2 linked regions of the Homo sapiens genome follow. The protein of the gene in region 2 purifies or fractionates together with the protein of the main gene of each other region. This does not show direct contact. Each region holds a gene or a part of one and is shown on either strand. Other genes may lie near its edges.

Region 1 (4,725 bases), on a different chromosome or scaffold from region 2:
TGAGCCACCGTGCCCAGCCTGTATGTTGTATGGTTTTAGGGAGAACAGTTGAATCACAAGAAGACCATAACATTTGTACTCAGATGTTTTTTTCCCCCTAGAACATAAGGATTTTACTATAATACCTCAACATCAGGGTTTTCAGCAGGATGAGTAGTAGTCATAGGTAAATAATTATTGGTTAAATCTCTTGGGAAAAGTGACTAGGTCTTTTTTTTTTTTTTTCTTGAGATGGAGTCTTGCTCTGTCGCCCAGGCTGGAGTGCAGTGGCGTGATCTCGGCTTACTGCAAGCTCCGCCTCCCGGGTTCACGCCATTCTCCTGCATCAGCCTCCCGAGTAGCTGGGACTACAGGCGCCGCCACCACGCCTGGCTTTTTTGTATTTTTAGTAGAGACGGGGTTTCACCGTGTTAGCCAGGATGGTCTCGATCTCCTGACCTCGTGATCCGCCTGCCTCCGCCTCCCAAAGTGCTGGGATTACAGGCGTGAGCCACGGCGCCTGGCCGTGACTAGGTCTTTATATGAGTAATACCTTGCATTTGGTTAGTACAGTAGGTTGGGCAAGTGATATTATGTAGGACAGGGATTCTTAAACTCGAACATACATGAGAATCACCTAGAGGGCACAAGATTGCTGGGTTCCACCTCCAGACTCCTTATTCAGTAGATCTGGGGGTGGAGTCTCATAATTTGCATTTCTCCCAAGTTTCTGGGTGGTACTGAGGGCACTGGTCCAGGGATTACATTTTAGATAACTAAAGCCCCGAGAAATTAAATTATTTACTTAAGATTATACAGCTAATAGTGGTACAAAGCTAGATCTTAAACCCAGCCCTCTGTACTCAAAATTTATTGTTCTTTTTATTCTACTGTACAGTTTCTCTCACAGAAGATGAAAAGTAGAGAAAATGAATATTCATGTAGGGACATGATCATCTCATTCTGAAGGATTTTTGCATGGCTCCAATATACCTTTACTGTGGTCCACCTTAGGGTAACTTTCATGTATGTGCTTATTAGGTTTTTTTCGTTAGAATTTTCAGTGTTTCTGAAGGTGGGGAGGAACATGGAATACAGGTGAAATTAAACCTTAAACCTGGCATAACATGGATAGGGTTAGTGTCTTACATGGTATCCGGCGTCTGCTCAAATGAGACAAACTGGACAGCTGGGTGGATGATGGTATCCATGGATTTACTTCATTAGCGCATGTCTACTTTTTTATTTATTTATTTTTTTTGAGACAGAGTCTCACTCTGTTTGCCCAGGCTGGAGTGCAGTGGCGCGATCTCGGCTCACTGCAAACTCCACCTCCCGGGTTCATACTATTCTTCTGCCTCAGCCTCCCGAGTAGCTGGGATTGCAGGCGCCCGCCACCACGCCTGGCTAATTTTTTGTATTTTTAGTAGAGACGGGGTTTCACTGTGTTAGCCAGGAGGGTCTCGATCTCCTGACCTCATGATCCACCCTCCTCGGCCTCCCAAAGTGCTGGGATTACAGGTGTAAGCCACGGCGCCCAGCCTAGCATGTCTACTTTTTAATGTGATTGGGCCATTGTATGTAAGGTAATGCTCTGCTTAGAAATATAGAATGTTTTCCTAGGCCTAGGCCCCAAGTCCATGGTGTGTGAAGTGAAATAACTTTGATGTTAAGGAGTTCTTTTTTTGTCTTTTGCGGAACACTGGAGATGATCAGACTTCCTGAATAGAGAAAGCTTATGTGCTTTGTTACATTGGGGAACAACTGAAGAGATTCTTGACTCAACCTTTTAGAGCTTAGTCCATGTTGCAACGAGGAGTGTTGGCTTTGTTTTTCCACTTAAAAACTTTATTTATAAAAAGGAAAAGTAGTTTTCATATTAAGTTTTTATTTCCTTTCCAGCAGTTGGGGCTAGAAAGTATATGTTGGCACTAGAAACATTGTTAAGATTTGTTCTGTGGTGTAGGTATGCACATTCCATAGGTATGCACACGGCCATGTAATACCTGTATATCCCAAGTTAATGAAAGTGTTCATTTACACAGATAATGGAGACCTTTGCATTTTGATCCATAGAACATAGGAGGATGTTCTTAGTCTGTCTCAAAGCTCTATATGTTTACATATTATTTCTGTAGATTGTTTTCAGGAGAAAGTTTTGCTTCTATGGTAAGAGTGAGCACTTTGGCTTATGTATAAGTTAGAAATAATTGTTAGTTTTTAATATGTACTTCATGGGGAAATTTCTTAGACGTATGCAAGCAAGTGAAAACAATTAGGGCCAGTGGTATTAACTACTTTATAAAATTTTATTTTTGTTTGTAAGAAGTTATCTACTTAAGGCCCAGTTAATATAAGTGGAATCATCATAGTTTAAGGAATACCCAGAGATTGCTGCTATTCTATTTATTTTACAGAAAGGATAGCTAGATTGAAAGTTCTTCAGTGGACCTTGAGCTAATAGATCTTTTACCACTAAAAGAGCATTATTCTCATGTCATAATGAGAATAATAATTTACATACTTGGCATAATAAATGCCTAAAAGACATTTTATTTTCTGAATCTATTTTTTTCTTGCTATAATGGGGATATTGTAAATTATGCATTTGTATTAATGGTATTTCTTAAAGCAATCTATGTAACTGTAAATTAAACCAATCTACAAACTATTGTAGGCATCTGTAAATTCTGTTGTAGGTATTATAAACTTTGTTGAAGTCTTAATCAGCAGATTATGTTGTGAATATATTTGTACATTGTTAAAATAGTTTTTAAGATTATTTGTTTAATTGAATAAGTGTCTTATTGGAGTGATAGCTTTGAAGGTGCAAAACTTTATATTTGTATAAAATTCTACTATTTACAAGGCATTTGACATGTGTAATCTCATGTAACCCTCATGATAAATATGTAATACTTTAGATGATATAACTGAACTTCAGGTTAATGAGTGACTTTCCCAAGGAAAACAGATTGCAGGAATATCTGTAGGATATAAAACATGATATATTAGTATTTTTTAGAGAAAATATTTGCTCTAAATGCCCTTTCCTTTCTTAAAAATTAATAATTTGTTAAGAGCTTGTTTATTTTACTTAGCTGTTCTGTCTGGTGAGAATTGATACTGCACTAAAGACATTTTAAAATACAATCTGAAAGATCTAACCTAAATCTTTAGGGTTGAGAGTCTAACAAAGGATACATTGGTGTAGTTCTTTAGGTAACTGTGTTATTTGAACTGCATCCTAAACCAAGTAACAATGAATTTTAGAATATGCATGTGGTAGGAGCTACCCTGTATTCCCTAATATTCGTTTTTCTCCTTCTACAGATTTCCCACCTAATTAGCTAGGGAATGGCATCCTGGAATAAAGATAAAACTTTTCCTAGATTTTATTGCTGTATCTTGGTGTGGCCACACCACCAAGTTTGGGCCAATGGATACACTTCCAGGAAGTATCCTTAAAAGGAGGAGGCACGCCCATCCCTTCCCCCTTTTTCCTGAAAGGTAGACACAATAGCAGAAACTAGAGCAGCCATCTTGGACTATGTGATAAAGGCTTCGTTTTGTGAATGGCAGAGAAATGAGGTAGATACTGTCTGAATCCCATCTTGTGGGTATAGTAGCCCTGAACTACTTGTCTGAATTTTTTTTTTTGAAACAGAGTTTTTGCTCTTGTCACCCAGGCTGGAGTGCAGTGGTGTGATCTCGGATCATTGCAACCTCTGCCCTCTGGGTTCAAGTGATTCTCCTGCCTCAGCCTCCCTAGTAGCTGGGATTACCAGCCTGCCACTACACCTGGCTAATTTTTGTATTTTTAGTAGAGACGGGATTTCACCACAATGGCCAGGCTAGTCTCGAATTCCTGACCTTAGGTGATCCGCCCGCCTCAGCCTCCCAAAGTACTGAGATTACAGGCGTGAGCCATCGTATCTGGCGACCTGTTTGAACTTTTAATAAAAGTGAAGGGAGGAACTACCTTCTTCAAGTGTTAATGTTCTGGCTTCTCTGTTGCTCATAGCCTAACTGGATTCTTGTCGATACAGTGCACTTTGAGCATTATCCATGATTATTTCCATTTGAACTAACTTTCCATATTGTACTAACAACTCCAGTTGTTAGTACAGTATTAGAGATGTAATAATTTAGTAAATACATAGTTGTCCTTTATGTAGTAATTAAGTGAATATTGTAGTTGCTGCCGAGTTGCACTGTTCAGATGCTGTTGCTACGTAAAATTCCACTCCTAGAATTACTGGTGAAAAGTCATTTTATTATGCTCACAAATTGTGTGGGACAGGAATTTGGATGGAGCACAGTGATGGCTGGGGAAGGAGCCAGGGAGTGGCAGGGAGCTTTTCAGCTACTGGCCTGGAGGTTGACATTGGCTGTCAGCTGTGGCCTCAGCTAGGCTCTCGGTTGGAACACCTACACTGTGTAGTTTCTCCCTGTGGGCACATTTGACTTCTTCACAACCTGGCACTGGGTTCTAACAATGAGCCTTCCAAGAGAGCAAGAGAAGTGCATGGCATTTTAATGATTAGTCTTGGAATTCACATGATGTGTCTTCTGTCATACTTCATTGGATGAAGCAGTAACCAAGGTCCATCCAGCTTCTATAGAAGGGTACATAGAGCCCAGTACTTGATGAGAGGAGTGTTAAGATTACATTATAATAAGAAGTATGTGGGATGGGAGATAGTCTTTAGAAAATAAAATCTGTGACACTTTAATCATTTCATT
Region 2 (9,655 bases):
TTCTAATTTTGGGACACTCTTGGTTTTGAATTTCTTTGTGTTTGAATCTTTTTTTCCCCCCCAGCTCCATTCTCTGATGTCCTTTCTCTCTCTCTCTTTTTCCCTCCCTCCCTTCCTCTTTCTTTCTTTTTCTTCCTTCCTTCCTTTCTTCCTCTCTCTCTTCTCCCTTCCTTCCCTCCCTCCCTTCTTTCCTTTCTCTTTCTTTCTTTCCTTTCTTTCTTTTTTCTTTCCTTCTTTCCTTCTCCTTCCTTCCTTCCTTCCTTCCTTCTCTCTCTCTCTCTCTCTTTCTTTTCCTTCCTTCTTTTCTTTTCTTTCTTTTTTTCTTTCATCTCCTTTCTCCCTCTTGCCCAGCCCTATCTCAGTTCTGTCAGTTCCTTCTTTCTTTTTTTGCTTCCTCTTCCTCTTGAGGACCTGACCTCTTCCCTCCCACTTCTAACCAGGGCTGTGAAAACTCCGCCTTCTCTTCCAACTGGTGCAGCCCAGGGGACACTGTCTCCCTCAGCCATAAGGGCCACTGGAAAGGAGACTCAATGTGTGACTGAGACCTCATCTCCCTGAATTAGGCCTCCGTGCACAGCCACTCATTAGATCATTCATTTTTCCCGGAAGACATTGGGAAGGACGGAAGTAGAAGGCAAATGTGTCATGTGTTCTGATGCTTAGCTGCATACTAGGATCATTAAATTACCTGCCACTGACAACCCTGGTGCAGAGAAAAAGTGGCAATTTGTTCTTGTTTCTAGTCACCCTACTTGCCTCAGCAGACAGCATGCTCCTGTCCCCCATGCACACACTGGGTGGTTGGTGATCAAATTTAATTATTCTACCTGCATTAAACATAGTCAAATCTTGTCAATTAAACAGCATCTTCAGCAAATATGTAGGCTGTTCTTTGGGTAACAACGCTCAATATTGCAGATGCCTCCCCCTCCCCTGCTTCTCTCTAAGGTGGCATGGAGTAGGGGCGGGGTTCTCCAGCTTCTGGGAAGGAACACGCCGTCCCTGCCTTCTCTGGTCCTGGAGTGCTGACACCCGTTCTTTCACTGTTCCCAGATGAAGCCTGAAGCTGCTCTAATTCAAGATCTGGTCTGTATCGGGCTCCTGCCCCCACCACTCAGTTTCCACAGACAGGCAAGAGTCCTCTGAGGAATGGCTGTGAACCCCAGGTCCTTGGCACAGGAGGCCCTGCCACAGAGAACCACTCAGGACAGATTTCCAGTTAGGTTCTTGGCTACTTCTGGGTCCTGTTTGTGTCACTCGAATATCAAGGTCACCCCAGGAAAGGTAAAAAGCAGCCTCTCCATCTGTCTAACATGGCTGTACCTTGCTACACTTGCCAGTTAGCCTGAGTCCTAATCAGGACATTTCTGTCCTGATTCTCATTTAGGACTTCAGGTTAAATGGGAATCAGGACAAAATCTCTGCTTTCTGTAGGCTCCCCTGAATTGATCTAACACACACATGGTAATACTGGTCCACACGTAGACGAGGCTTAACATGTACTTCTCATGATTTAATTCTCACAACACCCCTAGGAGGGAGATGCACGATTATCACTCACATTTAATAGGTGAAGAAACTGAGGCACAGAGGTTGAACGCCTTCCCCAGGATTACACAGCCCTATGGCAGAGGCTGGCGTGGGGCCACAGCCTGGCAGCTCTCCCCTCTCTGCTGACACCCCGGGGCCTCCTCCCTTTATTCCTCTCTGCTTCTCTTCCCTGCCCCCTGGCCTGAAAAAGGCGGGTTTTCTTTTATTTCCCCCATGCCTGCTCTTCTACCGTGAAGCTGGGATATTTACCAAATAAAGACTGGTTTGGGTTCAGTTCCTTTTGAACCTTTTCTTCTGCATGTCCAGAGAGAGACTGCATTGATGCCAGCTGCCAGGCAAATGTTTCACTTCTTCCACTGTCCACTTCAGAAGAATTCTGGGGACTGCCAAGACTGGCTGGTGGCAGTCATCCAACTCCCATATGGAGATCTATCCAGAATGTGTCCTCGAGAGCCTCGCTCAGATATCAGCTCCACCTCGGCAGCTAATCTTATCCCTGTGGACACACATGGCAAGACTGCTTCCTCTGGCAGCAGCAAGGAATTTGGCTAGGGCTGGCCTCTCACCATCTCCCGCCTGGGCACCCTGAGTATCAGCAGCTGCCCAACATGCGGCTGCTGGCCGTGATGGTTCCAGAAGGGAGGCACGCCCTTCTGTCTTCATCTTGTACCCCAAGTAACCTCAGACAAACAGGATCAGAGTTGACAGTGTTCCCCATCAAGGCCACAAGCCCTTCAAATGCCTTATACATGAGCCATGTGTACCTGCAGAACCCAGGGTTTCACTCAGATTTCTGGATCCCCTATCAAAACCTTTAAATACACAGTTTAAGCCTTATGAGGTGTGATTCTATTGCTCAGTTAGCAGTAGCTTTAAGTGCAAAGACTAGCTTTGTAAGGCATTACAAACGTATAAAATGTGAATGGAATCTACAGCAGGCAGGTCTTTCCCTAAAGGACCATGTTCTAAACGACTTCATAGATTTATTTCTTTCAGTCATTTAACAAATATTTTTAAGTAGAATCTCTTCTTCCTCTTCACTTTCAGATAATACTATTTACTATTCCTTTCAAATCCTATAGCAATGGTTCCCAACCTGGTATATTAGGATTCTTATGTGTCCTGAAGGGCACTAAGGGAGGTCTTTAATATATTTTCAGTATTTCTTACAGAAAATAGACTTTTATGATAAGGTTGTACTTACCAGTTAAAAACATTTCTTTGCCTTCAAGTGAAATGACAAATGACCCAAGTGGCATCCATACAGATCTGATTACCACTCTTTAACTGAAATATATGGAAGTGTAAATAATTCATAACATGATAAAAGGGCTTTGGAAGATGGGCGTTTCTGCTATGTGGTGTTCACATGGGGAAAGGATGCCCACTTATGAGAGGACAGGGTCCTGCTGCCGCTGCATTGTCACCACAGTCATGTCTACTCTCCCTATGGCAGTTCACAGTATCATTGTCACTGTGAATATTGTCTTTTGCACTTATTACACAAACTTCTGATTAGAGAGGATGTCAAGGCATAGTGGCTGAGAAGCCCATATTTTTGTTCAAGTGTGCCCCAGGGTTCAGTGGCCACTGAGGCCCTAGATCATTCTGGGTTCCACAAACTCAATAATAAATATTTGTCAGCCCAGGCACCGTGGCTCATGCCTGTAATCCCAGCACTTTGAGAGGCTGAGGCAGGAGGATGACTTGAGATCAGGGGTTCAAAACCAGCCTTGCCAACATGGTGAAAATACAAAAGTTAGCTGGAGGTTGGGGTCTGTAATCCCAGCTACTCGGGAGGCTGAGACACGATAATTGCTTGAATCCCCGGGGGTGGAGGTGGCAGTGAGTCAACACTGTGCCACTGCACTCCAGCCTGGGCAACAGAACCAGACTCTGTCTCAAATAAAAAAAAATTGTCATCTTTATCACAAACTGGAGCTATTGCAATTGGATTCGTTGAGCCCTTTCCTCTAGAACACCCTCACTGTAAAAAAACAAAACAAAATTGGGGACTCTTACGGTGGAGCTGTGGCCCCGGGGGGCCATCTGGCATGTCATGGAGAGGAAAAATGCCCCTACACCTGCAGTGACAGCGCCCTCTGCTGCTCCCATCTCTCTGCAGAGATGGGTTGGGATAATGCAGGCAACAGCCACTTAGTGTCAAGTTCTTCACTCAATAATTAGAACCCCAGTTCACTGGAGAGCTTCAACAAACATTTTGAGTGCTGCTTTTCTGCTGTAATTGTAGGCACTACAGAAAAGAAGGTCATTATGAATGCCCTCAAAAAGCTCACAGTCTGATGGGAAATCAGACCTGTACCACCTAGCTACTAGAGGATGCGTGAAATCCTATGTGTGCTTGGAAGGAGGTGTTATGAAGCAGATCAGGGAAAGTACAACATTCTGGGAGGGAAGGGTGGTGGCAGAAAGCTTCACAAAAGAAGCAGCATTTGAATTGGCTCATTGAAGGGTAATGATTTCATGGGGGCAGAAGCAGTTGAGGATTCTGGCTTTACTTTGAAAACACTTACGAGGTGGAGGAGAGGCTGGGCTTGGTGGCTCATGCCTGTAATTCTAGCACTTTGGGAGGCCAAGGCGGGCAGATCACCTGAGGTCAAGAGTTTGAGACCAGCTTGTCCAACATGGTGAAACCCTGTCTCTACTAAAAAAGAAAAGAAAAATACAAAAATTAGTCTGGCACAGTGGCATGTGCCTGTAGTCCCAGCTACTCTGGAGGCTGAGGCAGGAGAATCCTTGAACCCGGGAGGCAGAGGCTGCAGTGAGCCTAGATCATGTTACTGCACTCAAGCCTGGGCGAGAGAGCGAGACTCTGTCTCAAAAACAAACAAACAAACAAACAAACAAACAAACAAACAAACCAAACAAGAGGTGGAGGTGATAAGCTTCCCAAATATCCTTTTGATTAATCTTTCCAAGTTGCTGGCCTTTTTTCCCAAGCTTGCAGGTTTCTTAAACATTCATTCCACTGGTTTCACCTGTCTCAGATCATCTCCTTGTTCAATGCAGTGGTTCTCAGGAAAGTTTGGACCACCAATCAGAAACATCACAATTTTGTTTTCTTTCTTTTTTTTTTTTTTTTTGAGATGGAGTCTCACTCTGTAGCCCAGGCTGGAGTGCAGTGGCACCGTCTCTGCTCACTGTAACTGCCTCCCGGGTTCAAGCGATTCTCCTGCCTCAGCCTCCCGAGTAACTGGGACTACAGGCGTCCGCCACCACGTCCCGCTAATTTTTTGTATTTTTAGTAGGGACGGGGTTTCACCGTGTTAGTCAGGATGGTCTCGATCTTCTGACCTTGTGATCCGCCCGCCTCGGCCTCCCAAAGTGTTGGGATTACAGGAGTGAGCCACCGCGCCCGGCCCAACATCAGAACATCCTAGAAGTAGGAACTGGGTAGAAACGCAAATTCTTGGGCCCCAACCTAACTGCTGAATCTGAAGCTCTTGGAATTTCATCTGATACAAATTCAAGGTTGACAACCACGGTTCTAACATGCAGGATCTTGGGAGCTGATACAGAGGCCGAGAAGGATCTAGGTTGCTTTCCATGTTCCATCATGGCGAGACCCGGCTGAAGTTCCTGCCTTGACCTTCTCGTGCACGCTTCGGACGTGTGGAGCAGCCACCAGGGTGGGCTGGGGGCATTGTCTTCTTGGGCAGTTTCTTGGTCAGGGTCGTGTCTGCTTGAGGGCAGAGGCGCTGGCCACAAGGCCCTGACTCAGACTCATATTTTCCCCTCAAGAGGACAGAGCCTTAGCAAAGCCGTCCCAGCTGGCTTTGGGGTAATGCTGGCCTTAGTTATGCTGAGCGATGCAGCCCTCCTGAGGTCATTCGGAACGCCCGGGAGAGTGGCCACTCCCGCCCCAGAGGGGGAAGGGTGGCCGGTTTCCAAGTCCGACTTGGTCAGGTGACCGCGGCGCGGCATACTCAGCGGCAGAGACGGAAGAACAGCGCTCCCGAGGCCGCGGGAGCCTGCAGAGAGGACAGCCGGCCTGCGCCGGGACATGCGGCCCCAGGAGCTCCCCAGGCTCGCGTTCCCGTTGCTGCTGTTGCTGTTGCTGCTGCTGCCGCCGCCGCCGTGCCCTGCCCACAGCGCCACGCGCTTCGACCCCACCTGGGAGTCCCTGGACGCCCGCCAGCTGCCCGCGTGGTTTGACCAGGCCAAGTTCGGCATCTTCATCCACTGGGGAGTGTTTTCCGTGCCCAGCTTCGGTAGCGAGTGGTTCTGGTGAGTGCGCTCCCTTTTGTCTCGTCTGCCGCGCTTTTGTCCCCACCCGCAGCCTCCAGCCACCACCCAGCGGGCCTGGTTCGCCGCCTGGTGCTGCCTGCACCCTCGTCGGTTTCACCTCCCACTGCGTTACCCGCGTTTCGCACTTCCGGGTGTCGAATATGTGGTTTCCTGCCTAAGTGCTTCTGCTGGATGAACAGGGAATTTTTCTTCCGTGTGACTGTAAGAGTTTTCAGATACTCCTGACTCCTCAGCTTCTTCATAGTTGCGCATATTAAGCTGTAGTTATGACACTACAACATCGAGCTACTACAGACATTCATCAGTTTGTGCAGGGGCATCACACGAGCGGTGACTCAGGCACAATGGCCTATGGTTGCTCTGCTGCTACCTGCCAATTTACAGTCGTTCTGCCATGAAGTTATGGTTAAAACATAGTCATGAGTATGTGAAACGACTGTTCATTGAACACCATTGGCTACTTAATGTTAACATGTTACCCATGTGTGGCTCTAGGAACTTTTTAAAGAGGTTCTAGAATGGTACTCTTAACACAACCCAGTTATCATACTGCCGTATGAAAGGTGCTACACAAAAATCTGTGCGTTAGATTTTACCTTGAGATCTATGTGAAAATGTGCATGTAATTTCTTAAACTGTTGCACATGTCTTTTCTGACTAAATGCTACAAGTATTAAGTCCTTCAAAACAGAAATATTTTGTGTGCATATATAGAAACATACACATAATATATTCTTTTTTTTTTTTTTTTGAGACATAGTCTCATTCTGTCACCCAGGCTGGAGTGCAGTGGCACCATCTCGGCTCACTGCAACCTTCGCCGCCCGGGTTCAAACGATTCTCGCGCCTTAGCCTCCTGAGTAGCTGGGACTACAGGCGCACGCCACCATGCCTGGCCAATTTTTTTGTATTTTTTAGTAGAAACGGGGTTTTGCCATGTTAGCCAGGCTGGTCTTGAACTCCTGACCTCAGGTGATCCGCGGTGGCTCATACCTGTAATTCCAGGACTTTGGGACACATAATATATTCTTAAGTAAAAGAACGGAATCATTAAACAGTATTTATTTGAATCAACTATATACTACATAAATAGTATACATCCAAATTAACATACTATATTTAGTAGACACAATACAGAGTATGAACTATATATTATATTAACATTACATAGTATACATGGTACCATGCTCTACTCTAGGGGTAGAAAAATTACACCTCCATTCTGTTAGGGTCTCTGCTGGGTCCAAGAATTAAATTGACATTGTGTGACTAAATTATGTGGGGAGACTTAAATAATAAATTTTAGCAAGTTCTGTACAGTATTCTACTTCTTGTCTTTGAAGCTTAGGATGTTGCCTTTCCTTCTAGTACAGAGTGCCTTTCATACTGGAATTTCATCTTCTCTCCTAAGAAACAGCACAAAGGGCAAAGTGCTCTTCATGCACCTGCTATTTTTCGAGTTTCTTTACCTTTAAAAATGTGCCAAAATAGCATATTTTAACCCTTTCATGACAAAGAAATTGACTACCTGCAACCAGTAACCTTTCTTATTGGTAGGTCAATTGATGTAAAAAATAAAACTGGATAAGCTATGGAGAATTATTCATATTTTAAATAATTCACCTTCTAAAACAGAGACTCTTTATTCTTATGCCAAAACATAGCTACTTCAAAAAGATGTTACAAATCTTTATTTGCATGTTTTGGGCTGTAAGGAATCTTGAGCTTGTTTTGGAAATATTTTAGATTAGTGTGGTACATAATTAACAACTTTCTTCCCCCTAAATTGTATCTTATATTATCATTTTGTTCAACCATGAAGATTAGGTAAAGATATATTGGTGCCAAAGAGGATTTGACATTTTTGACTGAGACTAGTACTATGCCAAAATAAAACAGCTAGTTTTGAGTCATTTTATTCTTTGCTATGAATAACTTCATTTTCTACAGATAAACCCATGGTTATTTTGACCTAGAATAATAAAGATACTTCTCATACTAAACAAAATAGAGAACAGATTCCTGATGATCTGAAAATGCATTAACCCTGTGGAAGATTCTTTAATTACCTGTGATTTCCCTTTGTATCCTCTGCTCCTCACTCTCAATTTGACTTTCGGGGAATCAACAGTATAGATGAGTATATGTGACTGTTTTAAATGTCTATTAAAAACCAAATATAAATGATAGACCTTTACCATAAATGCCTCTTTTCATCTCTCAGCATGAAATTCAAGTCTAGACTGTAGGGGACAGTGCAGGTTCAAATTAGATGATGCTAGGAGAAATTCCTTATTCTTGTTCAACTTTCTGAATGTCCCAGTTTCTCTTTTGCAGTTCAATTTAAAATGTAATGCCCGTAGTCCCAGATACTCAGGAGGGTGAGGTGGGACGATCGCTTGAGCCCAGGAGTTCAAGGCTGTGGTGTGGTATGATCATGACACTGCACTCCAAACTGGGTAATGGAGCAAGACCCTGTCTCAACCAATCAATTAATCAATAATAAATAAATAAATAATAAAAATGCTTCAAGGATTTTAAACCCAACTAAAAGGTATAATGATAGGGGCTTGTTATCTCACATAACAGGAAATTTAGAGTAGTCGGTTCATTGATGAAATCAAAGACACGGGCTCTTTCTTTCATCCTCAGCCTGGGGACTTGTCCCTTCATGGTCACAGGATGGCAGCCAGGCACCATAACTTCACACAACCCTGCCCAAAGGCAGGAAGGCCAGTGTCTCTTTTCATTAGGAGGGAAACCATTTCCACAGTCCCCAAAGTTGGCTTTCCCTCAAGTTCCCTTGGCCAGCATGGATCTCACATCCCTGTCGCAGCTGTAGTGGAAGCTGGGAAATTACGTAAATACGACTTTTGGGCAGGCAAACAGCATGCCTGCCGCATAGTATGCCCTTCAATTATTTCTTCTTAGCAGAGTCTCCTGATCGTCTTGGGAAATATAGTGCTGATTATGGATTTGCTTATCCTGTAGAAATACTCATATGAAAGGAATGGTGATAGAAAAAGCAGGAGGTGGGTCAAAAATGGGGGTTGCATCTATTTCATGAGGATAGTTACTGCTGTGTTTATCTAAAATGTGTAGATGTGCTTTTCCTCATGAAGTCTTGCTTACGCAGTTTAGGGTCAATATACCATTGCTTAGAATGAATGCGTATAGCAAGTAATTGTTGAAGGTTGAGTCCATTTATTAAAATAACAGCATCTTTTTAATTTTACTTTTGCCTCCCTTTCTGTCCTGTGCCTCCAAAGTGTTCTCTACTACTGAATATAATAGATGCATATTATGTTTTAGGCATGTAGTCTTCCTTTTAGAAGCCCTAATCACTTATGTTACAAGGGACAATGTGTAAAGACATATACTACATGTTGTGATTTAAAAGTGAAGAATTAAAAGAGAATGGGGCTGGACACGGTGACTCATGCCTGTAATCCTAACACTTCGGGAGACTGAAGCAGGAAGATCGCTTGAGCCCAGGAGTTTAAGACCAGCCTGGGCAACATATGGAAACCACATCTCTACAAAGAAAAAAAAAATAGCCAGGTGTGGTGGCACGTGCCTGTGGTCCTAGCTACTCAGGAGGCTAAGGCGAGAGGATTGCTTGAGCACAGGAGGTCAAGGTTGCAGTGAACCATGATTCCATTACTGCATTCCAACCTGAGTGACAGAGTGAGACCCTGTCTTAAAAAAAAGAGAGAATGGGTAGCTGAGTTGCCTAGAATGCTCTAGTTTATGAGCTGAGTGGATATCACAGGGGGATAGGTGGAAAATGAGAGGGGGTTTAGTTTGCATAAGCTATCTTTAAAGCCAAGTCAAA

The links. The genes of interacting proteins can lie anywhere in the genome.
Region 1: the proteins of FUCA2 (region 2) and TVP23C purify together in Homo sapiens (affinity purification with mass spectrometry, with the first as the bait; 2 studies listed by BioGRID). This does not show direct contact.

Annotation. Positions count from the first base shown.
Region 1 is NC_000017.11:15,535,106-15,539,830, reverse strand, and holds the end of TVP23C (Golgi apparatus membrane protein TVP23 homolog C), read left to right. Parts: 3' UTR 1-2,851; downstream 2,852-4,725.
Region 2 is NC_000006.12:143,507,555-143,517,209, reverse strand, and holds the start of FUCA2 (plasma alpha-L-fucosidase precursor), read left to right. Parts: upstream 1-5,489; 5' UTR 5,490-5,575; coding exon 5,576-5,799; intron 5,800-9,655. UniProt on the Homo sapiens protein: Alpha-L-fucosidase is responsible for hydrolyzing the alpha-1,6-linked fucose joined to the reducing-end N-acetylglucosamine of the carbohydrate moieties of glycoproteins.